2 separate regions of the Homo sapiens genome follow, and region 2 is linked to region 1. Evidence: fine-mapped expression QTL. A gene starts in region 1. The other region holds a variant in brackets. All regions are shown on one strand. Distances are from middle to middle.

Region 1 (15,159 bases):
CCGCCCACCTCAGACCGGAGAGAGAGTGAGGGATGGGCAGAGCCAGGCCCAAGTCCCCGCCGGGGCGACGGTCACGGTGCCTCACCCTCAACCGCCTCACCCAGACCTTCCGACCCAGGAACAGCTGAACTCAGCCTAAAAAGCACCCGTCCCGAGGGCCTGAGTCCGGCCGTGGTGCCTCCTGCTGCAGAGATGTGTTTTGCACACTCCTGTGTGGCAGGGAGAGGCCCGGGCGTGCGGGCTGGGGGCCCAAGGGGTCTGGAGACGCTTCCCTGCGGAGACGGGGTTTGCCCAGCCCCCACCTGTCACGCTTCTCGTCACCCCCAAGTGAGGGCCGTGGGCGCGGGCGGGGTGGGCAGGAGGCCCTGCTGGGCTGGGTCACACGCATGACACCTGGCTGTCGCAACACAGATATCATCACGCCCGGGCACCCGTGAGTCACTGGCCCAGAGCAGGGGCTGCCCCCAGCCTCCCAAACAAAGACCCTTTGTCCCCAGGCCTCTGGTGCCAGGCCCACCTGTACAGCAGTCAGATGCGCAGGCGGACAGACACGCCGGTGGCTCGGCAGGCACAGGCAGGGCCAGGGCGTGTTCCCGCAACCAGACACGCTGCCATTCCTGGGTCAGGGTCAGGCTGAGGGAGACCCCTGGGGGACAGGCCCTGAGGTCACCATAGCTCAGAGTGACCTGAACTGGGAGTCCAAGCACAGACTGGCCAAGCCCAGCCCGTGAGCGACGGCCCCAGGACGCGGCGCCGAGCTCTGCCCCCAGCTCCAGCTCCCAGCGGCGTCGGAGCACAGCAGATCCCAGGGCAGCGCTCTGCAGGCAGGAAAGAGCTTCCCCTTGGGACAGCGCGCTGAGCAGCCCCCAGCTGAGGGTGGGAGCCCCGTCCCTGGACCCCTTCACGCAGTTCAGGGAGCCCCACATGCCGAAGCAGCCGTCACAGCTCCATGGGCCCCTCTGCTGTCCCTGGCAGGACCGAAGCTATGTGGCCTCCCGGACGCCAGGGACCCCGGCCACGCCCGCTCCAGGCACTGAGTGGCCAGCCAAGCGCTCGGGCCCGGGGTCCTGGACGGCTGTTCTGGGTTTGTTCTCAAGGGGGCCGTGCTGCTGGCTCTGTAGAGAGTCCCAGTCCCAGGGCAGAGACCCACACAGATGTGCAGACACGTGGGCACACACGCACCAGTCGCAGGGACACACAACTGTCAACCCGGGGTCAACACGGGGCACCTGGGTACATAGATTTTTACAAAGCAGGGCAGGCAGGTCTGTTTGGACCCTACACAGCCCCTACATGCCCCCAGGCCATTCTTGTTCCAAGGCCCAGATGACAGTGGTCACCAGGTGTGGTGTGGTCTGGGGTCTGGGACAGGCCCCAGGAACGCCCTGGGCTTACTCCAGAGAGGCTGGCAGGCAGTCCGAGGGGCCTTTGGAGCAGACACCCTCCCAGCTGCAGGGCGGCAGGGGCGGCAGGGGTGACAGAGGCGGGGAGAAGGATGCGAAGACAAGATGCCAAAGCTGGGCCTCCAGCGCCTGCCTGTCCTGGCTGCAGCCCCAGGGTCCACACCCAGGCGCCCCCAGGGGCCAGGCCAGGGCAGCCGCATCTCCTACGTACCCCAACAGTGGGGCCCTTGAGGCACCGGGGACGGATGGGCAATGGTGTCCACACCTGACAGGCGGGGCCGGAGCGGGGCCCAGCCTCCTCCTCACAGCCAGGAGCCCCCAGCCCTGCCTCCCCTGGCTCCTGCTGCCCCCTCAGGGTGGCTGCCGCACCTGGCCCCAAGAGGACTTCCTGGCTGCCCTGAGCTCCCGTCCGCATTTCTGTCCATTCAAGACCAGGACAGCACCAGGGCTGGGAATACTGGCTCCGACCCAGCCGAGGCAGCCCCGGGGCAGGGTGGGTCAGGCAGGTCCAGCGCTGGGACTCTAGGGAAGGGCTGGTCCTGTGAGCAGACGAGCTGGAGGGTTGGTGGGGGGAGTGTCCCCGCACCGGGCATGGCCCCTCCCAGGATGGCAGGGAGCCCACGGCAGGAGTGTCCGATGCCCCCAGCCCCGGCCAGGCAGCAGGGTCGGCCTGCGGTTCTGGGAAGTCAGCCCTGGTGGAGGTCACGGAGAAGCCGGCAGCTCCCTGCCGCTCAGGGCATGGGGTCAAGGGTCAGGGGTCAGGGGTCGGGTTGAGGCCGTCCGGCACGTAGCCGGCTGCTCTGGCTTTGCTCCTGCCAGGGTCCACGAAGCTGCCAGACGCTTGGGACACTCAATACCCCAGCTCCCAAACCGGGGGGCACAGGCCTGAAGAGATCCGTTTCCCTGGGCTCCCCAGGTCCCCCAGCCAGCCCAGACCCCAAGCAACAGCAGCTCTGGCTGGCCTGCACCTGCCCCGGGGACCCCACGCTCCGGCTGGGTGAGTGACAGGCATCTCCCACCCTCGTCAAGAGTCCAGGGTCCCTTCTATGGCAAACATTGCAGTGTGGGTCCAGCCCAGGAGGTGAGGCTGAGAGAGAATGAAGGGGTGCAGCTGGGCTGGGCCAGAGGATGGAGCCTTGGCTGGGTGGGCTGGGAGCCTGGACCCTCCTGTGAGGCCGCCCACCCCACCCCGACCTGTCCATTCCTTTGCTCCTGGGTGCCCAGAGGGGGCTAGAGATGGCACATTCCAGGGGAATTGCGGCTAAGTGGCTGATCACCTCCCACTGGGGCAGAAACCAGGAGGCAGAGGCCAGGGAGGTGGTGCCAGCACCAGGACATCCCCACGCCCCCCATTCACCCTGGCCCCAGCCCCCCCCATTCACCCTGGCCCCCATGCCAGCCCCCAGCCACCCCCGACCAGCCCCCATCCCCCACCTCATTCACCCCGGCCGTGGTCCCTGCCCCAGCCCCCGCCGCCCCCATTCACCCGGGCCCTGGCCCCCAACTCATTCAGCCCCGGCCCCCCGCCCCACCACTCCACGTCTCTTTGTCTCTCATCACCATCTTGCTCTACGCGGCCCTGGGTCCCATTTCTGGCATGTCCATCTGTCATCACAGCTCCTACCTCCGGGACTGGGTAGGGTGGGGGACTGGCTGCTGCTGAAGAACCTAGAGGGCCCCCATTCCCGGATGGTGAGGCCCCAGGCGGTGTTCAGAAAGGCCTGGCTGGGTGCTGCCTGATCCTGGGTGCCTGCCCCCAGCCCGTTCTTGCCCAGGGTTGGCCCGTCAGTTTGGGGAGGAGCCACTGAAAACTGGAAGCAAACAGGGGAGTCCGCAGCCCAGGGCTCACGCCAACCAGGAAGGTGCAGGCCACGCTCCTGCCTCTGCCTCCTCAGGGCCCCCACACTGCTGTCCCCGCTGACCCAGCTCCAGGAGGGCCCGGCACAACCTTGGTTCCCCCTGTACAGATGCACAGCTGCCCGACTCTCTGGAAGGGAGCACTCTTGAGTGCTGTGGCCAAGCAGGGCAGGGGCTGCAGAAGGGAGACCCCCCGTTCCAGATCCAGGCCCCAGGGGGCAGGCCGTGCCCACAGAAGGGGTGCTGAGGGCAGAGAGGAGCCCCTAAGCCGGGGCCACAGCCTTGGCAAGTGAAGCAGAGGCCCCTCCAGACAGCCCCAGCCCCTGACGCCACTCTGGGGGGCCCAGGGAGAGAGGTGGGGACGGGTCACCACCCAAGCCCACCTCGTGCCGATTGGCGCCTGCCCACACACCTCGTCGCAGGGCTGGGCTGTCCCGCCTCACTGCCCAGCAAGCCTTGGGGAGGGCCCCTTCTGTGCCAGCCCCGGCAGCTCCAGGTCCCAGGGGAGGGGTAACAGCCGTGGGCTCTGGCCTCTTCCAACCTCCCCAACCCCACCAGCGACTAAGGGCTCTGGATGCCAACCAGAGATGGCATCTCCGCAGCTCAGCAGAGGCCTGGACGTCCTGAGGCCAGTTTACACTCTTTGGTGTGGGTTTGCCAGAGCCAAAATGGGGTGGGGGTGGGGCCCAAATCCACAGGACCTGCCAGGGAGCAGCAGCATGATGGTCACATATGGGGCCCACCCCACCCTCCATGGGGCAGTTCTGGCCCCTAAGGCCCCCGAGAGGCCCTGGTCATTAGAGTGCGGCCATACCGAGAGCAGGCGAGGAGAAGCCTGCTGGTTCCAGCCCTGCTCCACCTGGGTGCCCCGGGCACGGCACGGTCTGGGCGCACCTGAGCCCGCAGGGGTGCCTTTCAGCTCCACACGCCTGCGGCGGCCAGCACATGCAAGCACGCGGTCCCGTGTGTGGCATGCACGTCCTCTTGCCCTGCACAGAGCCCCCCACAGGACGCAGGCCTCCCGAGGGCCCAGAACAGTGCTGCTCTCCAACCTCTGGGGCTTCCAGTGCCCCACGGCCTGCTGCTCCCCCAAGGCTGGACAGGCCGTGGGCAGAGCTGAGTGGGGCCGGCACGGACAGTGGTCCTTGTCCTCAGGGTCGACGTGGCCCCTGCAGGGGCTACCAGGGCAGCGCCCAGCCTCTTGCCATCACCATAATCCCGGGCCAGGTAAGTCGGCCCCGAGGGAGGCTCTACGGCCCATACCCCAAGCTACCGGGCTCCCCTGTGAACAGCACCCTTCTGCCCCCACCCATCTCCCGCCGACCTCGGCAGCCTGGCTTCCACCCCCAGTGAAACATCCAGGCAGCACTCGAAGGCAGTGGGGAGGGTGGAGGGCTCTTTATTGTGGTGACCACGGGCATCAGTAGGAGGGTCCCCGGGATCCGGCGGCAGCTCCTCGCCAGCCCCCCTGGGCGCCCTCACGTGCCCAGGAGCAGCCCGGAGAAGCTGGAGCCCGCCTGGATGGTGAGGACGGCCCCGGAGCCATTGTCCACAAACACAGAAGCGTACTGTCCAGCCTGTAAGAAGCACGGGGACGTCACAACCGCAGCCACAGCCCAGCCACTCGGTGGCCAACGTCTGCCCACCTGCCCTGCGCTAGGAGGTGCCGAGGCCCCAGAGGTCTGCGCCCTGAGTGCACCGAGCTCACACCCGGCCCAGCCCGAGTGCACCCGAGCCCTCCCGCTCACACCCGGCCCGGACTCACCTGCAGCTGCAGCAGCCCCTGCACCTGTAGCGTGAAGACCCTGCTGTTGCTCTCCAGGCCTGAGACGGCCTCCAGGCACCTGAACACAGCCCCACAGGGCAAGAGGGAGGCGTTGCAGGTCCAGGGGGCCAAGACCTGCTCCAGTGCCCAGAGACCCCTGTGGCCTGTGAGCCCCTCCAAGGGTGGTCCGGGGGCTGCCGCCTGGAGCGGGGGCTGAGGTCACTCACGTGTGGCGCTGGCACAGGGACTCAATACAGATGAGAACACACACCACGTCCCGGGCCCGCAGCCGGGCCTTGCCCTGCAGCTCACTGTGGTCTGCGGAGAGAGCCCTGGGGAGGGTGGTGCATGGGGGGCGGGGTGGGGGCTGGTGGGGAGGGGCTTCAGGGCACACATCCCAGGACAGGCCCAGGAGTGGCTGCTGGGGCTGGGGAGGGGGCGCCTGAGGCCAGGCGTGCAGCAGGGACCCCATGCCCAGTCCAAGGCCCCCCATGGGGCAGGGGATAGGTCCCTAACAGGACCCGCACCCGGGGCCGGCGATGCCAGGCGCCCCCAGAAAGCTCAGCCCCAGCCCCGTCACAGCACACGGCACTGCCCCATCCGGCTCACCCACGTGCAGACTGGCAGAGAACTGGAAGATGCCGGACACGGGGGCCGTGAACCGACCCGAGGCCAGGCTCAGACCGGAGCCTCGCAGGAAGGCACCTTGGGCAGCAGGCTGTGAGGGGCAGTGGGTGAGCGGCCAGCGCAGGGCCTGGCCCCCACCCCACAGACCCCGCCTGGGGAAGGTGCCTGCAACCGACAGCCCCTCACTCGGAGCAGCTCTCCCGGGACCCTCACGCTCACTGTGGGCACCAGCAGGACTGACCCTCGAGTCCACACCCAGGAGGGTCTCCCTGCCTCCCGGCTACCGGGGACCCACGCTCCGTCTGGGCATAAAGTGTGATCTGGGCCCCCAGGGCCTCCCAACCCTGACCCGAGGCAGCCCCTCGCCCTCCGAGCCCCGCCCCCAGCCCCCAACCCACATGCTGCCCCATGAGTGTCAGGCGGTGTGTGTGGTCCCGTCTTGCCTGTGGGGCCCCACCCAACACCCCGCTCTAAGCTCCCGGCTCCACTCACAGCCTGGAAACCATGCAGCTCCACCAGCGTCCGCTTGTCCACCCGGCGGGGACCCTGCAGCCGGCAGTGAAAGGCCTCGCCCACCAGCCGCAGGCCCGCCCCCTGGGGCAGCAGCGGGTCCAGAAGCCCTGAGAACCGGCGCTCCGTGGCCTCTGTGGGGAGGAGGGCACAGGCGGCCAGCAGGGTCAGCACAGGGCCCAGGCACGTCTGGTCTCTGGGCAGTGCAGGGCGGCTGACCTTTCAGCAGCTCCTGAAACTCGTGAAGCAGAGTCTCCGCGGTCACTTCTGCACCTGGAGGTCCTGGGGGACCGAAGAGATCCCGCTGGGGGGAGAGAGAAGCAGGTGAGGGGCCCAGTGGGACCCGGTGGGAGCTACCACCACACCCTGTCCGGGGCTCAGACCCTGCAGCAGCCCGGGCGGGGCTCACCGGCTTCTTGTCCCTGCTTCCGCACCGCTTCCTTAAGGCGCCGTCGTCCGGCCGCCGGACAAAGTTCAGCCATGTCATGTGGGCGTCGGAGAACTCAGGTCCTGAGGCCTGGGATGGCTGAAGGGACGGGACGGGGCTAGCGCACTGAGGCTGCACCCTGCAGAGAGCTGGGACCCCAGGGCAGCGGGGAGCACTCAGGGCAGAACCAGGGAAGGCATCGCCGGCCAGGAGAAGGACCCACGGCCGCCCTTGGGGGAGTCAGAACCCTGACGTCCCAATGCCACCAGCAGGGCAGGCATGCGGGGCTTCTGTGGACACAGCCAGAGCCTGATGCCCTGAGCCCCTCACTCCTCCCCCACTCCTCCCCCTCCTCCCCCCACTCCTCATCCCACTCCTTCCCCCACTCATCTCCCTCCTCCCCCACTCCTCATCCCACTCCTTCCCCCACTCATCTCCCTCCTCCCCCCACTCCTCATCCCACTCCTTCCCCCACTCATCTCCCTCCTCTCCCCTCCTTTCCCACCTCCCCCTCCTCCTCCTCTTCCCCCTCTTCCCCCCACTCCTCCCCATTCCTCTCCCCTCCTCCCCCACTCCTTCCCCCACTCATCTCCCTCCTCCCCCACTCCTCTGCCCTCCTCTCCCACTCCTCCCCCTCCTCCCCCCACTCCTCATCCCCCTCCTCCCCCACTCCCCCCTCCTCCCCCTACTCCTCATCCCACTCCTTCCCCCCACTCCTCATCCCACTCCTTCCCCCACTCATCTCCCTCCTCCCCCACTCCCCCTCCTCCCCCACTTTTCACCCTCCTCCCCCCACTCTTCCCCCTCCTCCCCGCACTCTTCTCCCCTCCTCCCCCACACCTCTCCCCTCCTCCCCCCACCCTACCCTCTCCTCCCCCCATTCCTCCCCCACTCCTCAGGCATCCGCTATCCGCTTGCTGTCCTGTTGACCACCACCGCAATGTGCTGAAGGGACCCGGCGCCCTGGAGGGGCCTGTACCTCAGCCTATCTGGGGGCTGAGAGCCAGAGGCAACAGAGAGCAGGCTGCAGGAGAACCGCCCAACCCTGGAAGCCTGGAGGGCCAGCCTGAGCACACACCTCACAGCCCTCCAGCCGGCACCCTTTGAGGGAGGCCCGCCACCCTGCAGGGTCTCTGGAGGAGTGGCCCTGGGCAGTGGGGTGCCCCCTCCCTTCCAGGGGGACTGGCCCGGACTGCTGAAGACCCCCCCACTGCCCCGCCCCTGCCAGCACTGCCAGCCTGGCCCTAGCGCCGGGAACCAGCCCACTCTTCCTGAGCTGGCAGAGCCGCGGCCTCAACCCTCCTCAGCCTTCCCATCTGGGAAACGGGACCTCGGGCTCCAGCGGGGCCGCGTGGGCTGAGAGGCAGCCGGGCTGGCTGCAGCAGAGACGCCCTCGGGAGGAGGGAGACCAGCATCAAAGGTGTGAGGGCCGGGGATGGGGGCTGCTCTGGCAACTGCGGCTCCCCTCCCAGTCCTGGGGCCCACGACGGCGGCAGCAAGACCTGCCCTCCAAGACCCCTGGAGAGACCCTGAGCAGGAGAGAGGAAGCCCAGGGTTGAGGTGGGCTTGGGGCCTTCTGTCTTTGTGAGGACGCCCGGCCTGACTGGGGCCCCAGGACTTAACCCGCAAGAGGGGGTGCTAGCTACACAGGACCCCCAGAAAGCACAAGGGACAGGCTCGCCATGGCGTCTCCAGCCGCAGGAGTCATGGGGCGCTGGACTCCCAAGGGGTCTGGTGAACCATCCAGCAAGCAGCCGGAACCACCCCACCCCCGCCCCCAAATCAGCAATTAACCTAATAGCAACAGGTTCCTCAGAGCGCGGCAGGCCCACGCTTCAAAGGGTTAACTGCGGCCCCCAACCGCGGGAAGCCCCCTTCACCCACCCACCCCAGGCCAGCTGGGGGCCAGGTCTCCGCTGCAGAGGAGGAGAGGGCTTCCCAGAGGCCGGCCTGGCTGGGCTGCAGCAGATTCTCAAGGCGGGACCGTGGCCGAGGCCTCGAAAAGGGCGACCCGGAGGCAGAGCCGGCAGGGACAGAGCCTGCTGGGGGAGGACGCCCCAGAGCCCCAGCTCCGAAGCTGCCCCGCGAGGGCCCACGTGCGTCCCGGCCGCGTACCTTGGGGGCCTCGGGCAGCCCCTCGCGGGAGGACGCGCTGGCGGTGGCGTTGGGGGGATCTGCGCGCTGGCCAGGCTGCTGCGTCCTCTGTGCCTCCCGCCGGGCCCCGACGCCCCCGAGGAGCACGAGCTGCGGCCCGAGGAGGACCACGACCGCGGCCCAGGCCCAGCGCCGCATGGCTCCGTCCCGAGGCGGCTCAGCGCGGCGAGTCTCGGCGCCAGGGCGCAGTCATGGGGACGGCCGGCGCTCAGAGCCCCCGCGCGGGGGCGAGGCCCAGGGGCGCGCCCGGCCTCCGCCGCTGCATGTCTGCGCGGACCTGCCCGGAACGGCGGCGCGACGGCGCTCAGGTCCCCCCGGGGTCCCGCTCCAGCCCCCGCTCCCAGCCCCCGTCCTCTCTGGCCTCCTCACTCCGCCGCCCAGTAAATCCTCCCCTCGCCTCCTCCTCCCCAGACCTCGCAGGCTCCAGGGTGGGGGCTCACACTCGGACGATCAGCCAGCCGCCCGGGCGCCCCGACGGCCAGGGACGGAGACGGGGCGGAGACCCCCACTGACCCCGGCCGCTGCTTCTTGCCTCCCGTCCCCAGACCCCACCCTGCCCCCATTGCTTCCCCAAAGGTCCACCTCATTCTGGGAACCGTGAAGACAGCAGCCTACCTCCTCGCCCTCCCTGCCAGCTGAACTCAACCTGGCTCCCCTCACAGCAGCCTCTGCAGCCAGCCACCGGAGGGCAGCTACCAGCCAGCCAAAGCCCCAGCCCCTTCCCACGACCTCCTCACCCAGGCTCCCCCGGGTGCCCCGCCCTGACTCACGGCCCCGGCCCAGGGTCCTGGGGGTGCTGGCCGGCCTCGCTGGGGCCCCACTCGGGGGAAAGGTGAGGCCAGATCATGGCGACAGGCCCCTTGGGCTCAGTGGCTGGAGGAATGGGGTGGCCAGGTGGGGCTGGAAGACCCTCCAGCCGCTGGTCCTGGCCGAGGCTAACAGTGGCCCAAGGTCAACATGCCGGCCCTGATGGACAGCTCGGAACACTCCAGACCCTCCCCTCTTGCCAGACACGAAGGTAGCCACGCCGAGACCCCAGCGTCAACCCCAGCCCCAGGCCACATCCACAGGCAGAGCCACGGGAGACCAGGCTGGGATGGGGATGACGCTTGGGAACCCACCAGGGACCCCGGCTGCCCCCTCGCCCTCCGGGCTCTCAGGCACTGACTGGCATCTCCAGAGAGCACTGTGGAAGCCTCCCGGCCCCGTGTCCGCTCGTGAAGGTGGTGGAGGACCCTGGGGACACGGCACAGCGCCCACACAGTACCAGCCCTGCTGGACCCCCGCAGGTGAGCCCTGGATGTGGCCTGCATCTAGCATGGGTCGGGAAAGGCAGCCCCAACACCCCTCAATCCAGGCTTGGGGCAAAGGGAGGGGTGGGCAGGTGCCCTGGCCAAGGAGACCCCCCGCCCAGGGCTACCAGACCCCTCCTCACAGGCAGGGCATCCAAATTTTCTCTGTCACCCACTGGCAATGAGCTCCCCTGTGACTCTAGACAGAACAGGCTGGATCTCCAACTCTGACCTACAGGCAGGAAAGTGGGCAGCCCTGGGAGGCTGGACTGAGGGAGGCTGGACTTCCCACTCAGGCCTACACGCAGGAAAATGGGCAGCCCTGGGAGGCTGGACCGAGGGAGGCTGGGCCTCCCACTCCACCCTACAGGCCAGGACACGGGCAGCCCTGGGAGGCTAGACCGAGGGAGGCTGGGCCTCCCATCTACCCTACAGGCCGGGACACAGGCAGCCCTGGGAGGCTGTACCGAGGGAGGCTGGGCCTCCCCCTCTGCCCTACAGGCAGGAAAACGGGCAGCCCTGGGAGGCTGGACCAAGGGAGGCTGGACTTCCCACTCTACCCTACAGGCAGGAAAACAGGCAGCCCTGGGAGGCTGGACCGAGGGAGGCTGGGCCTCCCACTCTGCCCTATAGGCCGGGACACAGGCAGCCCTGGGAGGCTAGACCGAGGGAGGCTGGGCCTCCCACTCTGCCCTACAGGCAGGAAAACGGGCAGCCCTGGGAGGCTGGACCAAGGGAGGCTGGACTTCCCAATCTACCCTACAGGCAGGAAAACAGGCAGCCCTGGGAGGCTGGACCGAGGGAGGCTGGGCCTCCCACTCTGCCCTACAGGCCGGGACACAGGCAGCCCTGGGAGGCTGGAGCAAGGGAGGCTGGGCCTCCCACTCCGCCCTACAGGCCGGGACACGGGCAGCCCTGGGAGGCTAGACCGAGGGAGGCTGGGCCTCCCACTCTGCCCTACAGGCAGGAAAACGGGCAGCCCTGGGAGGCTGGACCGAGGGAGGCTGGACTTCCCACTCTACCCTACAGGCAGGAAAACGGGCAGCCCTGGGAGGCTGGAGCGAGGGAGGCTGGGCCTCCCACTCCGCCCTACAGGCCGGGACACGGGCAGCCCTGGGAGGCTGGAGCGAGGGAGGCTGGGCCTCCCACTCCGCCCTACAGGCCGGGACACGGGCAGCCCTGGGAGGCTGGAGCGAGGGAGGCTGGGCCTCCCACTCCGCCCTACAGGCCGGGACACGGGCAGCCCTGGGAGGCTGGACCGAGGGAGGCTGGGCCTCCCACTCCGCCCTACAGGCCGGGACACGGGCAGCCCTGGGAGGCTGGACCGAGGGAGGCTGGGCCTCCCACTCCGCCCTACAGGCCGGGACACGGGCAGCCCTGGGAGGCTGGACCGAGGGAGGCTGGGCCTCCCACTCCGCCCTACAGGCCGGGACACGGGCAGCCCTGGGAGGCTGGACCGAGGGAGGCTGGGCCTCCCACTCCGCCCTACAGGCCGGGACACGGGCAGCCCTGGGAGGCTGGACCGAGGGAGGCTGGGCCTCCCACTCCGCCCTACAGGCCGGGACACGGGCAGCCCTGGGAGGCTGGACCGAGGGAGGCTGGGCCTCCCACTCCGCCCTACAGGCCGGGACACGGGCAGCCCTGGGAGGCTGGACCGAGGGAGGCTGGGCCTCCCACTCCGCCCTACAGGCCGGGACACGGGCAGCCCTGGGAGGCTGGACCGAGGGAGGCTGGGCCTCCCACTCCGCCCTACAGGCCGGGACACGGGCAGCCCTGGGAGGCTAGACCGAGGGAGGCTGGGCCTCCCCCTCTGCCCTACAGGCAGGAAAACGGGCAGCCCTGGTGTAGAGGGCAGCCCTACAGGGTTTGTGGGTTTTTCTCCCCGTGTGCGGAGATGAGAGATCGTAGAAATAAAGATACAACACAAAGAAATAAAAAAGACAGCTGGGCCCGGGGGACCACTACCACCAAGATGTGGAGACCGGTAGTGGCCCCGAATGCCAGGCTGCGCTGTTATTTATTGGATACAAGACAAAGGGGCAGGATAAGGAGCGTGAGCCATCTCCAGTGATAGGTAAAGTCACGTGGGTCACGTGTCCACTGGACGGGGGCCCTTCCCTGTTTGGCAGCCAAGGCAGGGGCCAGGGAGAGAGAGAGACAGCTTACGCCATTATTTCTGCTTATCAGAGACTTTTAGTACTTTCACTAATTTTGCTACTGTTATCTAAAAGGCAAAGCCAGGTGTACAGGATGGAACGTGAAGGCGGACTAGGAGTGTGACCGCTGAAGCACAGCATCATAGGGAGACGGTTAGGCCTTCGGATAACTGTGGGTGGGCCTGACCCTCCACAAGAGGTGGAGGAGTAGAGTCTTCTCTAAACTCCCCCGGGGAAAGGGAGACTCCCCTTCCCAGTCTGCTAAGTAGCGGGTGTTTTCCCTTGACACTGACGCTACCGCTAGACCACGGTCTGCTTAGGTCACGGGTGCCTTCCCAGGCGCTGGCGTTACTGCTAGACCAAGGAGCCCTCTGGTGGCCCTGTCCGGGCGTAACGGAAGGCTCGCACTCTTGTCTTCTGGTCACTTCTCACCATGTCCCCTCAGCTCCTATCTCGGTATGGCCTGGTTTTTCCTAGATTATGATTATAGAGCGAGGATTATTATAATATTGGAATAAAGAATAATTACTACAAACTAATGATTAGTGACACATATGGTCTATACCAAGTATAACTCTTATTTTATATATTTTGTTACACTGGGACAGCTTGTGCCCTCGGTCTCTTCCCTCGGCACCTGGGTGACTTGCTGCCCTCACCCTGGGAGGCTGGGCCTAACTGGGAAGGATGTGGCTTCGTGTTCCCAACCCCAGGCACCTTTAAAATGAGCTGAGCCTGGCACCCAGGCAGGAACACTCAGCCCCCATGCTCCCTCTAGAAGACGACCAAGAGGACCCCACCCTCTGGGTCACCCACCAAGGATCCAGGGTACCCTGGGCCACAGCCACGAGCTGCTCACAAGGGGAGGCTCAGGTGCAGCTGCTGGCTCTGCTCACCCCCTGCACCCCCCAACGCAGACACCCTGACACCCCCCGGCCCTGGAAAAATGGCAAAGGACCACGGTGCCCTGCCCAGCCGCCTGCTGCAGGGAGAGCAGCTCCCTCAGACCCGGAGTGCTCTGCTGTGCCGGCTGGTTCATCAGCACTCAGGCAGGCCTGGGCATGCGCTCACAGAGAAGCTCGAGGTTGCCAGAACACAGGAAACGCCTCTTCTTTCCTGTGACCACGAGGCCACGTGCTCACCTGTCTGCAGAATATCAACTTTTAAGGGGCTTTTCTCTCCTCATTAAAAGACTTCACAGTGTGCTCTGCATGGCGAGGGGACACACCGTGCTCCCAGGGGGAAGTCAAGGACGGCCTCCACCGGTGACAACACAAGAACAGAGGGGCCCACGATTCCTCTAAGGGAGACGGGGACAGAGGGTCAGACGTGCCCGGCCCAACAGGCCAAACATCATTTTTTTTTTTTTTTTAGACAGAGTCTCACTCTGTCAGCCAGGCTGGAGAGCAGTGGCACGATCTTGGCTCACTGCAACCTCCACCTCCTGGACTCGAGTGATTCTCCTGCCTCAGCCTCCTGAGTAGCTGGGATTACAAGCACATGCCACCATGCCCGGCTAATTTTGTATTTTCAGTAGAGACAGGGTTTCACCATGTTGGCCAGGCTGGTCTCGAACTCCTGACCTCAGGTAATCTGCCCACCTCAGCCTCCCAAAGCGCTGGGATTACAGGAGTGAGCCACCACGCCCGGCCCAAACATCATTTTTTATTTTGGGCCAGTGCGGACAACATGCCACGGGCACCACCTTCACTGCTTGACCGATGATCGCTAAAAGTTGAGATTTCAGTTGGGCGTGGTGGCTCACGCCTGTAATCCCAGCACTTTGGGAGGCTGAGGCAAGCAGATCACGAGGTCAGGAGTTTCAGACCAGCCTGGCCAATATGGTGAAACCCCGTCTCTACTTAAAATTAGCTGGGTGTGGTGGCAGGCACCTGTAATCCCAGCTACTTGGGAGGCTGAGGCAGGAGAATCACTTGAACCCAGGAGGCAGAGGTCACAGTGAGCAGAGATCACGCCACTGTACTCCAGCCTGGGCGACAGAGCAAGACTCCGTCTCAAAAAAAAAAAAAAAGTTGAGATTTTAGTCGGGCGCGGTGGCTCACGCCTGTGATCCTAACACTTTGGGAGGCCGAGGCAGGTGGATCCCTTGAGCTCAGGAGTTCAAGACCAGCCTGCGCAACATGACGAAACTCCATCTCTACAAAAAATACAAAAATTAGCCAGGCATGGTGGCGCACACTTGCGGTCCCAGATATGTAGGGGGCTGAGTTTGGAGGATCCCTTGAGCCCAGGAGGTCACCGTTACATGTGGGCGGCAAGCCACCCAGGTGCCGAGGCAAGAGACCGAGGGCATGAGCTGTTCCAGTGTAATAAAGAAAATATACACAATAAGAATAGTTACACTAGAAATAGATTATAGATGTGATGATATATGAATATTCTTAATCATTAGTTTCTAGCATTACTCTTCATTCCAATATTATAATAATCTCTGTTCTACAACTATAACCTAGGAAAAACCAGGCCATACAGAGATAGGAGCTGAGGGGACATAGTGAGAAGTGACCAGGAGACAAGAGTGTGAGCCCTCTGTCACGCCCGGACAGGGCCACCAGAGGGGTCCCTGGTCTAGCGGTAGCGCTAGCGCCTGGCAAGGCACCAGTTACTTAGCAGACGGGGAAAGGGAGTCTCCTTTTCCCCGGGGGAGTTAGAGAAGACTCTGCTCCACCATCTCTTGTGCAAGGCGACATCAGTCAGGCCCACCCGCAGCCATCCAGAGGCCCGTCTCCCCGTGATGCTGTGCTTCAGCGGTCACACTCCTGGTCTGCTTTCGTGGTCCGCCCTGTACACCGGGCTCCGCCTTCTAGATAGCAGTAGCACAATGAGTGAAAGTACTAAAAGTCTTTGAAATACATAGAAGAAAGAATGGTGTAAGCTGTCCTCTCTCTCTCTCCGCCTCGGCTGCCAAACAGGGAAGGGCCCCCTGTCCAGTGGACACGAGACACAC
Region 2 (15,159 bases), 33 kb after region 1:
CCTGTTTAGTGTCTGCTCCCAACCTGAGGATGTCAATGGCCAGGGCTTGGCTGCTCACCCCACACACCCAGGGCCTGGAGTGCAGAGCTCAGCCAGGGCACCCAACGCGTGCTCCCAAATGTGTGGCCTCAGCACCACCCCCAACCCTGCTTCTTGTTCTGGGGTCCCTGACTCTTGCAATCCTTGTTCACCACAGCCTTCCCACTCTCATTATCTTCTCTAACGCAAAATGTCATCACTTCTCCCATCAACACCACAGGAGCCTCCCAACTCCCCCCGTGGGTCCAGAAGGTCTGAGCTTCTAGTCTCTTCCCATTTCAAGGCCCTCCTGTACCCATAAGTCAACATACTGTTCCGATCACCCACTCCCCCATCCACCCTTCAGGATACTCCACAGCCAAGCAAATAAACATCAACACGTCCTCTTGCCTGCCAGCCCCTTGACAGAGGCAGCCCCAGCCAGCCCTCCTCATTCCCAGCTCCCAAGACAGAGCAGCCCCAGCCAGCCCTCCTCGTTCCCAACTCCCAAGACCCAGCACGGCCCAGGTCCCACTCCAAAGTCCTGACCGACACACTCCTTCTCACAGCTGCTTCCCAGCCTAGCCTGTACTGGAAACTCCCCAGGCCCTTCCCGGCATAGCCAGAGCCACCGCCTTCAGAGGCCTCCCTGATTTCCCTGCCAAATGCCTCCCACTCTGTCACACATCACTGGCCTCCATGTGACCCCACACACAACGCAGGGCCCTTCTGGGCCCCAGCGGGTTCCTCTGCCTAAGGAGTGCCTCCCCAGGAGGGCCCCCACCAGGGATGGGGTTACAGTCCTGCCTGGGAAGGAAGTGCTTCCACACAGTGGCATCCCCAGCTCCTGGCTAAAGAAGCCAATGGGCCAGGGATCTCCCCTCAGGCCAACACCTGGTGATGGCCACAGTGATGACCCCAAGCAGCACCGCCACACAGGCTGTCCTTTCGACACTCACCCTGAAGCTAACACTCTGCCATATACAAAATAATTCACTGGACAATTCAAGTGCAGGTGGGTCTGGGCTTAGCTAAGTGGCCAGGCCGCAGGTTTAACGAAAGTTCATGGACAGCCGCGCAAAAATAAAATAGATTCCATCCAATGAGTCACAAACAAGCTTCTCTCCCATACCTGCTTGGAGAGGCTTTTAAAATCATGTTCACGATTCAACTGCTGTTTCCCCAGCCACTCTTCCTGAGCTTCACACAGAACAGCATTCTCACGTCCCCCAGGAGGCCAGGGGGCTATTTCCCCCAATTCTTCTCATCCCAATATGACAGCAGGAAGGACAAGGAAAACAAAAATTCACAAAGGGGCTGGGCGTGGTGGCTCACACCTGTAATCCCAACACTTTGGGAGGCCCAGGCAGGCAGATTACCTGAGATCGGGGGTTCGAGACCAGCCTGACCAACATGGTAAAACCCCGTCTCTACTAAAAATACAAAATTAATCAGGCATGGTGGCATGTGCCTGTAATCCCAGCTACTCGGGTGACTGAGGCAGGAGAATCACTTGAATCCAGGAGGTGGAGGCTGTGGTGGGCCAAGATCAAGCCATTGCACTCCAGCCTGGGCAACAAGAGCGAAACTCCGTCTCAAAAAAAAAAAAAAAAAAAAAAAAAAAAAATTAGCCGGGTGTGGTGGTGGGCACCTGCAATCCCAGCTACTCTGGAGGCTGAGGTGGGAGAATTACTTGAACTCGGGAGCCGGAGGCTGTAGTGAACTGAGATCATGTCACTGCACTCTAGCTGGGCCAACAGAGACCCTGTATCAAAAAAAAAAAATTCCACAAAGGAAGCAAACTGTGAGAACAGAGTTTGAAGCATATGTGCCTCGGGTTCCCTTCAAACATCCCCACAGACAAAGGACACCAAGCATATCATCCTGCTGAGAGAAAGAGTTGGCGATTTTAAAACAAAAAGGCACAGGAAAAAAAAATGTTCACACACAGAAACTGCATTAAAGCAGCGTGAATCACCGAGGGCAGCTGTGCCCAGGTGCTGAGGCAGTGGCTGCCCAGCGTCCCTCACCCGTCCCTCTTTGTCTGGACAGCTCTTTCCTGCTTAGGGGATGTGGCAGGAAACCTTGGCCTGACCCATCGGCCAGGCGCATGGCACACCCAGGTCCAGGACTGCCAGGGAAGTCTCTGCCTTCTCCACCAGACTGCTCCGGAGGCTGGACGGAAGCCCGGGCCGATGGAAATGGGACACTCACCTGCGACTCACACATGCACCTGCCTGGGTCACCTGCCTGTCACTCATCCACGCACCTACCTGCCTGGCTCACCTGCCTGTCACTCAAGCACTCACCTACCTGCCTGGCTCACCTGCCTGTCACTCACGCACATCCCTGCCGAGAGTGGAACTGCTAAGGAGGTCAGCGGTGCCAGGCCGTGCAGATGACGGACTGCAAGTTCCGGGCACCCAGACCCAACCACGCCCTAGGCTCAGGTGCTAGACTAAGCGAGATACTCACGATCCTTTCTTCGGAAGCCAGATTACACAGTCTGGTTCCCCTGGAGCAGGGCGCGGGGCCACCGACCTGCCCCAGCCAAGCCCGCTGTACACTCTTCGCTGCCCACCTCCCACCGGGCTGAGGCCCGACCTTTCAGCCGCTTCCTATCTGGGTCTGGCAAGAGGATGGCAACCGGACTAGAGTTAAATACACACGCACTAAGTGGCAGGCACTGAAAAGGACGCCAGGAGGTGACACCTGGCCAGGGGCTGAAAGGATGCAGGGAACTGGCAGGTGTGGATGGCGAGGCCCGGCGCCGCTTAGAGACTTGTTCCGGGCTCGTGTCTCACTCGCCGGCCGGCGGTGGTCTCCCACTGTCACCGCCCGGGTTTCCCAGAAACGCTGGCCCTAAGCACAGTCCCGGGCACGCTCGTTTCTCTCGGGGTTTACGGGGCAGTCTGGAGTCTAACAGTTCAGGGGCGAGGCGACGGCGGGCTCGACGGCAGCCCTCCCCCGACACAGACTCCCGTGATCCACTGACGAACCAGGATCGAGGCTGCCCGTCCTGGGGCAGCTGCAAGTGTCCCAGCTGACGGGAAACCCGGCCGAGTGGTCAAGTCCCCGACATGACCCTGACCCGGAGCTCCGGGAGCCCGCCGTAACCGACCTCGGGTTCCGCGCAGGCAGGCTCGGGCCGGGGCCCCGCGGGCGGCGGGCGCGAACGGAGAAGCGTCGCGCAGGGTCCCCAGCAGCCCCGGGCCGCCGCTGTGGCCGGCTCCGGCAGGGGGGACGAGCGGGCCCGAGGACCCGGCGCAGGCCTGCGAGCGCGCTCACCTCTCCCTGTCGCTGCGCGTGGGCCGCCGCCGCGCTCAGGCTCGCCGTAGTCGAGGCCGGAGCAGGGTGCGGAAAAGCGGGGCCCGCGCCCGAAACAGCCGCACCGCCCCGGGATTGGGCCCACCGAACCCGCCGCAGCGCCGCCGCCGCCGCCTCAGCCTCCAAGATGGCCGCTCGCGGGGCGGAACCAGCCTAGCTTCTGCTTCCGGTGCGCGGTCCGGGGCGGTGAGGAGGGAGGGGGAGGGCTGGCCGCTCTAGGCAGACTGGCGGACCGCGCCCACGACTCTCTGTCGCCGTCGACCCCGGGGTGGGGGATGGGGCGGGGGGCGGGGCGGCGCTTGCGCACTGGCGGGCGGCTCCGGGCACCGTTAGTGGGCGCGAGAGCCCCAGACCCCGAAGCCGCGCGCTTCCCTCCCCATGTGCCACGGCCCAGGGCGGCAGGCCCGGCTGAGGGCGACCCCGGTGGAGAAAGAACCCCGACCCTCCCGCCTCCCGGCTCCCGCCTTGTCCTCCGCTCCCACGCCCCACCCGGCCCTTAGGGGAGGCGCGGCGCGGCCCGGGCATGGAGCGTCCCGGGCCCCTGGAGGCTCAGTGGAGGGTTGGGCTCCAGGGAGCTCAGAGCTCTCTCGTTCAGGGACCCGAGAGTGACACGCGTGGCATCTCTTTGCAACCCACGTCCGCGCCGCAGCACCCTCCCCTGCAGGTGCCTGCCCAGCCCCGGGATGCCCCTGACCTCCCCTTGGACAGACTGCAGAAAGCGCGGGGCGCTGCGTCCTCTCCACCTCTCTCTGACCCCAGACACATTGGGAGAGAGCGGTAGGTGGCGGGGCGCTGGGGTGGGACGCTGGGGGCAGGCGCGCAGCCCACCGCCTCCCTGAGAGGCCGCTGAGGACAGCGGGGAGCTGAGGGTGGTCCCCTGGTGGGGGATCAGGAGGTGGACCTCGCCACCTGGCTGCCTGTGGCCCTCTCCTTTGCCCCAACCCTGACTGCCTCTCAGGAACAACCACAGGTCAGCAAGGTGGCTGAATATTGAGGGTCAGTCCCGCTGTGGCTACGGGCAGAGGGCAGGCTGTGTCCATGCTCAGCCCTGACTCTGGCCCTCTGGGACACCTTGGTGGGTCTGAGACGTTGCTGCAGGCCGTGGGGCAGAAGCCAGGAGGAGTGTCCACGCAGCCTCAGCCCGTGGGAATCCAGCCTGCCTCCATTACTGCCGTCACCGGCTCCACCTTCGGAGAACATCTCAGCATCCAGCCTCCTTCCTCTGCCTCCTCTCAGGCCTCTGCCGTTCCCATGCAGGGCAGGCCAAACTGTTTTCACAGCATGGAAAGTTATGTGAGGGAAGCCACACCGGCCGCAGATACAGGCACCAGCACATCCACTCGCATGCACACTCACGGCTGTGGCCCGCGGCAGATGGAGGCCCGCTCTGCCTTGTCTGTCCCTCAGTAGTGTGCGATGACAGCACACCTGTGGGGGCCCTGCAGCTGGGAAGACTGCAGCGAGGCTCAACTCAGAGGCCCCTGCTCAGGAGCATGGCTGAGTCACACCCCAGGGAGAAGGTGCCCCGGACAGGTGTGGCCAGCACGTCTTGCCAAGACCCCACCACCCCACCCACCCGCATCTGTGGCCTTCTGGTAAGCAGGACACAGGCTGCCCAGGCCTCTAGCCATAGAGCCGATGGCCTTGGCCAGTGGGATCGGCACAAGCAGCTAGGTTGGTGGCAGATGGTGGCTGTAACCTTCTCAACCCTGAGATTGCCCTCTGAGGGCAGGAGCAGCCCTTCTGCTGTGGGCCAGCCCTCCGGAGGGACTTCCTCTGGCAGCTTCAGGAATAGGACAACAGGGACCACCCTCAGCATCTTGAGCAGCGGGGGGCACCCTCTGCTTTGGCAACCAAGAAAACATCCCCCAACCCAGTTACCACCTCCTGCCCCCACCTCCTCCAGCCCCCAGGGTTGGACCAGAAAGCCTTGGCTGCCTCTGAACAGCAGGGATTGTCTGGCCAGGGGATGCTTGAGGGACAGAGAACCCAGCCTGGAGGGTGCAAACTGAGGAAGGTCTCAGTCCCTTTAGAAAGTTTGTTTTGCCAAGGTTAAGGACACACCCATGACATCTCGGGAGGTGCCCAAGGTGCATGTGGCACAGCTCGCTTTTATACATTTTAGGGAGACATGATTTATTTACACGGGTTCAATCTGAAAGAGCAGGATAAATTGGGGTGGTGTGGGGAGACCTCTATGTTATAGGCAGATTCAAAATGATCCTGACCGACAGTGGTTGAAAGAGTTATTATCAATAGAAAGGAATGTCTGGGTTGCAGTAAGGGGTTGTGGTTTTCCACGCAGCTGAAGCCTCGGGTTGCCGGCTTCAGAGAGAATAGATTGTTAATGTTTCCTATCAGACTTAAGGCCTGTGTTGATGTTAATGCTAGTCAGCTTTTCCTGAATTTCAAAAGGGAGGAGGCATGACCCACGACCCCTTCCCGCCATGGCCTGAACAAGTTCCCAGGTTAACACTGGAACGCCCTTGGCTGAGAGGAAGGGTCCATTTGGACGGCTGGGGGGGCCTTAGAATTTAATTTTTGGTTTACATTCACCCCCTTCTGGCCAAGATTTGCCAGAGGCAACATCCATGTCCACCAAATCTTTATTGTGTCTCAGCGTTGCTGGGCGAGTGTGGCTGCCCACCCTCAGTCAATCCTGTCCCTCAGTTTGACTCCCTATGACCCAGGGACTTACAGTTAAAAGATTTACAGCCCATTAAATTTTGTAGGCCAGATAGGAATGGACATGGACCAGCATTCATTACCTCTTAAAACAATTTTTTTTTTTAAAGTTGGAGTCTCACTCTGTCGCCCAGGCTGGAGTACAGTGGCATGATCTCGGCTCACTGCAACCTCCGCCTCCCAGGTTCCATTGAGTCTCCTGCCCCAGCCTCCTGAGCAGCTGGAACTACAGGCATGCACCACCATGCCTGGCTAATTTTTATATTTTTGTAGAGACAGGGTTTCACCATGTTGGCCAGGCTGGTCTTGAACTCCTGACCTCAAGTGATCCGCCCTCCTTGGCCTCCCAAAGTGTTGGGATTGCAGGCATGAGCCACCACACCCGATCTATCATGTAACATTTTTATAAATTCCTTTTTTACCAAAGGTATTGCAGCTTACACAGACCGTTCACGACATGTGGACTTTCTAGTTTGTGCTGAACATCCCTTTTTTTAAACAACCAGTCATTTATTTAAGGACAAAAATTTACCATACAAGATTCTTTCTCATATAAAATTATTTTTTTTAACCTTACTTAACAAAAAGACCTCTTTATATCTATAACTTTCCTTGGTCTCTCTTATTTCCTTGTTCTTTTTAACTCATTTTATACATAAACTTTAAATAAGCTTTGAATTAGACAAAATTATTTACCTTATAATAAGAATTTTTGTAGAAAGAACGTTTTCCTATAATTTTTTTTTTTTTAGATGGAGTCTCACTCTGTCGCCCAGGCTGGAGTGCGATGGTGCAATCTCGGCTCACTGCAACCTCCCCCTCCCAGGTCCAAGTGATTCTCCGGCCTCAGCTTCCCAAGTAGCTGGGATTACAGGCATGTGCTACCACACCTGGCTAATTTTTGTATTTTTCAGTAGAGACGGGGTTTTGCCATGTTGGCCAGGCTGGTCTCCAATTCCTGATCTCAGGTGATCTACCTGCCTCGGCCTCCCAAAGTTCTGGGATTACAGGTGTGAGTCCCCATGCCTGGCCTTCAGCTGGGTTTAGAGTTTTACAATGCTTATGCCAAGTTTTGACCCCTTATAAATCAATAAATGCAAACAAAAATGTATGCTGACAGTTTTTAAGACACTCCTTATATTACTTTACCAATACTTTTGGCCGGGCACGGTGGCTCACGCCTGTAATCCCAGCACTTTGGGAGGCCGAGGCAGGTACATCACGAGGTCAGGAGATGGAGACCGTCCTGGCTAACATGGTGAAACCCCGTCTCTACTAAAATATACAAAAAATTAGCCGGGCGTGGTAGCGGGCGCCTGTAGTCCCAGCTACTCGGGAGGCTGAGGCAGGAGAATGGCCTGAACCCAGAAGGCAGAGCTTGCAGTGAGCCCAGATCGCACCACCGCACTCCAGCCTGGGGGACAGAGCGAGACTCCGTCTCAAAAAAAAAAAAATTTTTTACTTAAGTCACATGAAATTTGTTATTATGTACTAAATGTATGCATACTCCTTAAGCCACTTTGATACCTTGTGGCCACAAAACATGTATCAGAATCCACGCACGTACACATAAACACATCTAAACACACATATACACTCATCCAAAAACCCTACAGCTTTTGCTTTACACCTCTAACCATGACATATCAACACAAAGTCACTAGTTAGAAAAACAATAACAGAAAGAAACATCTAGATGCAAACTGTGGATGTCATCTCAGTAGAAAAGTAACAGCTGGTCAGGCACGGTGGCTCACAACTGTAATCCCAGCACTTTGGGAGGCCAAGGTGAGTGGATTGCCTCAGGCCAGGAGTTCAAGACCAGCCTGGCCAACATGGTGAAACCACGTCTCTACTAAATTTACAAAAACTAGCCAGGCGTGGTGGCGCACACCTGTAATCCTGGCTACTTGGAAGGCTGAGGCAGGAGAATCGTTTGAACCCAGGAGGCAGAGTTTGCAGTGCGCCGAGATCGCACCCCTGCACTCTAGCCTGGGCAACACAGTGAGACTCTACCTAAAAAAAACAAAAAGTGTAACAGCAGCTTTAAGGCAGGCAGCAAAGGAAACAGAGAGATAGAGAACTTAGGAACTCTATAGTTCTTTTTTTTTTTTTTTTTTGAAACAGAGTTTTGTTCTTGCAGCCCTGGCTGGGGTGCAATGGCACGATCTCAGCTCACTGCAACCTCCGCCTTCTAGATTCAAGCTATTCTCCTGCCTAAGCCTCCCAAGTAGCTGGGATTACAGGTGCATGCCACCACGCTCGGCTCATTTTTGTATTTTTAGTAGTGATGGGGTTTCACTCTGTCGGTCAGGCTGGTCTCGAACTCCTGACCTCAGGTGATCCGCCCGCCTTGGCCTCCAAAAGTGCTGGGATTACAGGCGTGAGCCACTGCGCCTGGCCAGGAACTCTATGGTTCTGTAGTTGCAGGCTGACCTTTGGGCTCTGAATTTTTCCTGGATGGAATTTGCCCATCAGTTTAAAATGTGCCCCAAAAGACCATAATATGGAACCAGCTGGGGCACTAGGAAACCCAGCATGCCCGCGACATGTTCAGTTTTATACCAACACTTGCAGGTAGAGGCGCCTGAAACCAGCGGGGTGCCTGGAAGGAGGTCGCCCTCTTGTCTTTGCTGAGGCTTACATTATTTATTTCCCACTTTTTTTTTTCTTGAAAGGAACCGAGCTGTGGCCTGGGGTTCCATGGAGCAGGTGGGGCGCGGAGGAACTGAGCTGTGGCCTGGGGTTCCGTGGAGCAGGTTGAGTATGGAGGAACTGGGGTTCCGTGGAGCAGGTGGGGCGCAGAGGAACCGAGCTGTGGAATGGGGTTCCGTGGAGCAGGTTGAGTGTGCCGGTCGTGGACGGGTCGTGGGCGGGACTCCCCAGTGTGTCACCACTGAGGCATCTTCGCCCTCTTACGTGTCTCTGTTTCTCTCTCTAGAAGTCCAACACCTCCGAGAGGACTCAAAACACAGAGTGACCAGCTCCTATGTGCATTTCCTGGACAAACCTTTTTTTTTTTTTTTTTTTTGAGACGGAGTCTCGCTCTGTCGCCCAGGCTGGAGTGCAGTGGCACGATCTCGGCTCACTGCAAGCTCTGCCTCCCGGGTTCACGCCATTCTCCCGCCTCAGCCTCCCAAGTAGCTGGGACTACAGGCTCCCGCCACAATGCCCGGCTAATTTTTTGTGTTTTTAGCAGAGACGAGGTTTCACCGTGTTAGCCAGGATGGTCTCGATCACCTGACCTCGTGATCCACCCGCCTCGGCCTCCCAAAGTGCTGGGATTACAGGCGTGAGCCACTGCACCCAGCAGACAAACCTTTTTAAACTAATTGTGTTGGGGGGTTCCCTGTGGGGCTGCTGCACGTCGTGGGGGATCAGCCCACGAGATACTCCCACTTGGCTCACAGTCACCCAGGGGCGCCTTTCAGCTGGGAGGAGCAAAATGCCTTTCTTTCTGGAGCTGAGAAAACTCAGTCTCTCATTTATCTATGCAAAGAACAATTCAGTTCCTCATGCAAATGCACGCACAAGCCAGTTGGGCTTAATTTTGGGAGAAAAAGCAACAGAGAAGACCCTTAGGAACGCACGTCCGAGCTAGAAACCAAATGGGGTACCCAAAAGGGAGTCGTTCTCCTTGTCTTAAGAAAAAGGTGGCCGGGCGCAGTGGTTCACACCCGTAATCTCAGCACTTTGGGAGGCCGAGGCAGGCGGATCACCAGGTCAAGAGATCAAGACCAGCCTGGCCAATATGGTGAAACCCCATCTCTACTAAAAAAATATACAAAAATTAGGCTGGGCGCAGTGGCTTATGCCTGTAATCCCAGCACTTTGGGAGGCCGAGGTGGGCGGATCACGAGGTCAGGAGATCGAGACCATCCTGGCTAACACGGTGAAACCCCGTCTCTACTAAAAATACAGAAAATTAGCCAGACGTGGTGGCGGGCGCCTGTAGTCCCAGGTACTCAGGAGGCTGAGGCAGGAGAATGGCGTGAACCCGGGGGGCGGAGCCTGCAGTGAGCCGAGATCGCGCCACTGCCCTCCAGCCTGGGCGACAGCGAGACTCCATCTCAATAAATAAAAAAAAAAAAGAGTTGTTATCAGTAGAAGGGAATGTCTGGTTACAGTATGGCGTTGTGCAGATGAAGGTCTTATCGCAGATGAAGCCACCAGGTCACAAGCCTCAGAGAGAATCAACTATAAATGCTTCTCATCAGACTCAAGGCCTGAGGTGATGCTGATGCTGTGCCTGAATTCCAGCAGGGAGGAGGCATGAGGTGCGTCCGACTCCCTTCCCATCACAGCTGAGCTAGTTTTTCAGGTTAACTTTGGAATGCCCATGGCTAAGACCAGGGGTCCATCCAGACAGTTCAGGGCTTATAATTTTATTTTTGGTTTATGAGGGAACCTAGAAGGCAGCCCACACGCACCTTACTCCTCCCAGCAGGGGACACCGGCCAGACCCCAAGCTCCACACTCCCACCCTCAGCACCCACCCAGGCCAGCAGCCGGGGGCACCTTGGTGCCACCTTAGTGCCTGTTCTGCGGAGGCTCCACTGGACAGTGCAGTTGATGCCCGGGGCCGAGGGGGCTCTGCCTGGGAGGCTGTTCACCTGCCTGGGTGCAGGACCCCAGAGGGACCCCAGGCCACCCCTGGCCTGCCCATGCCCACGGGAATCCCGACCTTGGGCTGCCTGTCTATTGCACCAGAACCGTCCCAGGGCTGACTCAGAGTGACCCTGAGTGGGGGACGCTCACCCCAGGGGAGGAAACGGGGCTCTGGGATAGGAGGTCCTGGCTGGGGTCCCACA[G/C]ATGCCAGGCGCCTGCCATCTCCAGGGCAGTGCTGTCACAGAAGACAACACCGCTCCCTCGTTACCTGTGGCCCGGCCACCTCAGCGGCCCAAGGAGGTGAGCTCACAGCCATGCTCGGTCAATGGGGCCTGGCCGTCTTTCCTGGGAGAGAGCAGAGGCATGGGCCCAAAGGGAGCCAGGGATGCCTGCCCGTCCCTTCTCTCATTCAGGCTCACCTGGTCATGGTGCAGTGACCACAGGACCCCCACATGCCGGGAGCTGGGTTCGCCCCACCCCACCCCCTGCACCGGGCCAGCGAGGGGATGGCCCAGAAGAGGGGGAGGACCATGTGGATTCACCAGTGCTGGACATGTGCTCTGTGGCTACCCCCTCTGCCTACTCTCTGGCCCGATACAGGGGTGTGGGACAGGTGACTGAACCTCAGCCCTTAGAGGCCTTGCCCGGGAGGAGGGGAGGGGGGTGGAGCCGGGAGCTGCGTGATCCAGCCGAGATGTGCTCTGACTGAGGCCCTGCAGGGCATACGGGTCATGGAAGGGGTGCTCTGCCCCCGGCCAGGGCTCCCCCTCCTACAGGAAGCCGGGGGCCTTGCTCCTGCAAGCTGCCCTTTGGCTGGACCGGGCCCCACTGGCCGGACCTGGGCTCTTTCTCTCTCTGCACCCTGCACCAAGGCTGGGCTGTCTGCCAGGCCACTCCCGGGGACACAGGGAGGCACAGGCTGCTTCCAGCCACAATCTCTGGCAAGCACCTAGGACCTTGTCCCCGCCTGCCAAGTAGCCGCCCGGGCCATGTGTGCCCTGTCTCCTCGGCAGGTGCGGCCCACGCACAAAGCTGCCCAGATGTGGTGGGGGAGAAGCCCCAGGCCTGTGCTGTGTCCGGGGGCCCTGCCGCTGACCTGTGGGGTCTCTGTGACATCAGCAAGCCCCCTGCCGCGAGCTTGGAGAGGCACCCCAGCCCCATCTGGCACTCAAGGAAATCAGCTCAGAGAGGTTGAGTAACTCGGGAAGGCCACACAGCCAGTGACGAAGCTGTGATTCACACAGGCCTGGGTGACTCCAGCATGGCTTTCCTCTCCAGGACGTCACCGGTGGCAGCTGCTTCCTTCCAGAGCCGGCAGGCAGGTGACCTCACCCTCCTCAGAGCCATGGCTCTGCTGCTGGACCCTGTGGGGCTGGGCTCCCCCAGCCAAGCCCAGGGACCCAGCACCACTTGGGGCAGGATGTCAGGAACACAGAGCCTACCCTTCCAACCTGGGCCCGGCTCGGGTCTGGTCATTTGGGACAGTGAGGCCACCTGGATATCTAGGGTCCCACAGTAGACAGGGATGGGGTGGTCCTGGGGGACAGGGACACCTGCCTTCCACACAACCGCACTGGGGCTGAAGACGCCAGCCTGGGAGACTGTGATTTGGACCCTGACAGTAGCATGTGGTCTTAGCATGTGTGAGGTCTTAGCGTGTGTGGTCTTAGTGTGTGTGAGGTCGTAGCGTGTGTGAGGTATTAGCATACGTGTGTGGTCTTAGCATGTGTGGGGTCTTAGTGTGTTGTGAATCACTTTCTTTTTTTTTTTTTTGAGACGGAGTCTTGCTCTGTCGCCCAGGCTGGAGTGCAGTGGCACGATCTCGGCTCACTGCAAGCTCCGCCTCCTGGGTTCACACCATTCTCCTGCCTCAGCCTCCCCAGTAGCTGGGACTACAGGTGCCTGCCACCGCGCCCACCTAATTTTTTGTATTTTTAGTAGAGACGGGGTTTCACCGTGTTAGGCAGGATGGTCTCAAACTCCTGACCTTGTGATCCGCCCGCCTCGGCCTCCCAAAGTGCTGAGATTACAGGCGTGAGCCACCGCGCCTGGTGGTCGTGAGTCACTTCCATGTGTGCCAGCATCTTGGTGTGTGTGGTGTGGGTGTGGACTGAAAGTCTTAGTGTGTGGCGCGTCATCTTAGTGTGTGGTGTGGTTGGTGGCAGCTATAGTGTCCAGCAGGGAGGGCGAGCCCCTGTGCCTACTCGGGGGAGCAGGTGCCTTCTCCACACCCAGACCCTTGGTGTTCCCACATTAGCACCTGTCCCAATGGCTGGGCGGCTGGTCCCGAGAGACACTGGATCTGGGAGCTGAGGTCCCCACCCAGTGTCTGTCAGCCAGGGAAGGGAGGGAGTGCTGGGAGCCCACCACGGCCCCGGATCTGAGTTCCAGGAGCTGGCAGAGAAAGATGGGGCTTCTGGGCCGGGCACGGTGGCTCACGCCTGTAATCCTAGCACTTCGGGAGGCTAAGGCGGGCGGATCACCTGAGGTTGGGAGTTTGAGACCAGCCTGAGCAGCATGGAGAAACCCCATCTCTACTAAAAATACAAAATTAGCCTGGGATGGTGGCAGGTGCCCGTAATCCCAGCTACTCAGGAGGCTGAAGCAGGAGAATTGCTTCAACTCGGGAGGTGGAGCTTGCAGTGAGCCTAGATCGTGCCATTGCACTCCAACCTGGGCAACAAGAGTGAGACTCCATCTCAAGAAAAGAAAGAAAGAAAGATGGGGCTTCCAAGGAGGTCTCAGCCCAACACTGTCCTCCCCCTCCCTCCACAGGCTGCAGCCCCTTACTCTCAGCCAGGGTCAGGACCCCAGGCCTCCCCTGCAGGGCTCAGGATGGGAAAGATTTCACCTGCAGAGGGATGGGCATCTCTGTCCCCCAGGAATTCCCCTTTTGGGTCCGGGGCAGGTGTGGCTGCCCTGGCTGGGTCCTCCCTCGCCTGCAGCACAGTCCCACGCCCAGCCAGCCTGTTTTAAATAGGAGGCCAGAGGCTCCATCCTGCTTCAGAGCTGCCAGCTGCCCCCGCAATGGCTGAGCACCGAAGCATGGACGGGAGAATGGAAGCAGCCACACGGGGGGGCTCTCACCTCCAGGTACCGTGGGGGGGGGTGAGGGGGGTGGGGGGGTTGGGTGAGGGGGGTGGGGTCGGGGGGGGGGTTGAGTGAGGGGGGTGGGGGGGTTGGGGGGGTTGGGTGAGGGGGTTGGGGGGGTTGGATGAGGGGGTTGGGGTTGGGGGGCCCCACCTCAAGGTACCAAGGTGGTGGTTGGGGTTGGGGGGACCCGCCTCGAGGTACCGTGGGGGGATTGGGGTGGGGGGTAGGGGTGGGGGGGTGGGGCTGGCGGGGGGGCTCCCACCTTGAGGTACCAGGGGCTGGGTTGGGGGGTCTCTTTCCGATGCCTGGCCCCGTGTGCCATCAGGAACAGGATTGCATGGTGGCAATGGGGCAGGTCATCCCTGAGTGCCTCCTTATCCTGAAGAAGGCTGTGTCCCATTGCGGGTACATAGTGTGTGCTGGACCACTGGGGGTGCCGAGCGTGTGCTGGACCACGGGGGGTGCACAGCGTGTGCTGGACCACGGGGGGTGCCGAGCGTGTGCTGGACCACGGGGGGTGCCGAGCGTGTGCTGGACCACTGGGGGTGCACAGTGTGTGCTGGACCATTGGGGGTGCATAGCGTGTGCTGGACAGACCCCGGGAGAACACTGCAGATACTGCGTGTCCAGGCGCTGTGCATCCCGTGGGTTGGCCACATGGCACGACGCAGATCCAGACAGGGTGGAGAGGCCAGTGTAGTCCTGTCTCACACACACGCGCACATGCAGGGTGGGGTCCGGCTCCTCTCTGACCAGGGGTCCAGGCCCTGCCTCACTCAGAAGCCCTGGGGACCCTGACTGGCCCTCCAGACCCCAATCCACAGCTCCCGCTTCTGCTGGCCTGGCAGCCCCCACTAGGGGGATGGTGCTGCCCTGTCTATGCGCCAGGTGGAGACGAGGAGTGGGGACTGGAGTCACAAAGACCCTTCCGAGCCTCTTAGCCTCCCTGCTCAGATGGCCTTGGGGACGCAGGGTGAGCAGAGCCATGTGCCCAGTGGTGGAGCTCCTGGCCAGGCTGCCTGGAGGCCTGTGCGGCCCACACACCCGAGGGGAGCCGTCCCCACCTGGTGTCCCCAGGCCCCGAAGCTTCTGGCTCGCTCTAGCACCTCCCCAGAGTACCTCGGAGCAGGCTTGGGCAGCGGGACAGCCTCGCAGACCAGAGCTAGGCCTGTCCCAGGACTCCAGAGCCTCCAGCGCGGGACTGGGCAGGCAGTGGCTGGGCTTCCTGGGGCCCTTGTGTCTCCGCAGCTGGCCCCGGTACTCAGCTCAATGGGGCCACCCCGAGCCACAGTGCCGAGCGGTGTCCAGGCCAGACGCTTCCTGGACTTGGCTGGATGGGCCTGGCACAGTCGGTCCTCAGCAGGCCACACTGGGGGCTGGGGTGGGTGCAGCCATCAGGGGCAAGAAGGGCAAGTCTTCCCCTGAGCC

What was found.
Region 2: its variant is fine-mapped to the expression of C1QTNF12 in whole blood (TOPMed, PIP 0.95).

The regions. Positions count from the first base shown.
Region 1 is chr1:1,237,810-1,252,968 of GRCh38, forward strand. It overlaps C1QTNF12 (C1q and TNF related 12), which reads right to left and starts at 8,913. Exons shown (of 8, transcript NM_001014980.3): 1 at 8,705-8,913; 2 at 6,572-6,688; 3 at 6,382-6,466; 4 at 6,145-6,296; 5 at 5,635-5,743; 6 at 5,253-5,343; 7 at 5,026-5,104; 8 at 4,644-4,837. The coding sequence starts at 8,881. The coding sequence ends at 4,739. RefSeq lists enhancers at 8,856-9,637, 9,638-10,418, 13,345-13,624.
Region 2 is chr1:1,270,360-1,285,518 of GRCh38, forward strand. It overlaps SCNN1D (sodium channel epithelial 1 subunit delta), which reads left to right and starts at 10,077. Exons shown (of 18, transcript NM_001130413.4): 1 at 10,077-10,307; 2 at 10,867-10,938; 3 at 11,052-11,251; 4 at 11,883-11,956; 5 at 13,619-13,731. The coding sequence starts at 10,303. LINC01786 (long intergenic non-protein coding RNA 1786) reads left to right here and starts at 3,643. Exons shown (of 3, transcript NR_185846.1): 1 at 3,643-4,122; 2 at 4,444-4,940; 3 at 8,709-10,248. It overlaps UBE2J2 (ubiquitin conjugating enzyme E2 J2), which reads right to left and starts at 3,495. Exons shown (of 7, transcript NM_058167.3): 1 at 3,307-3,495. RefSeq lists enhancers at 1,627-2,135, 2,136-2,642, 2,643-3,150, 4,341-4,979 and silencers at 3,340-3,919, 4,080-4,129, 12,801-13,001. The variant G/C (reference allele first, on the strand shown) is at 10,842.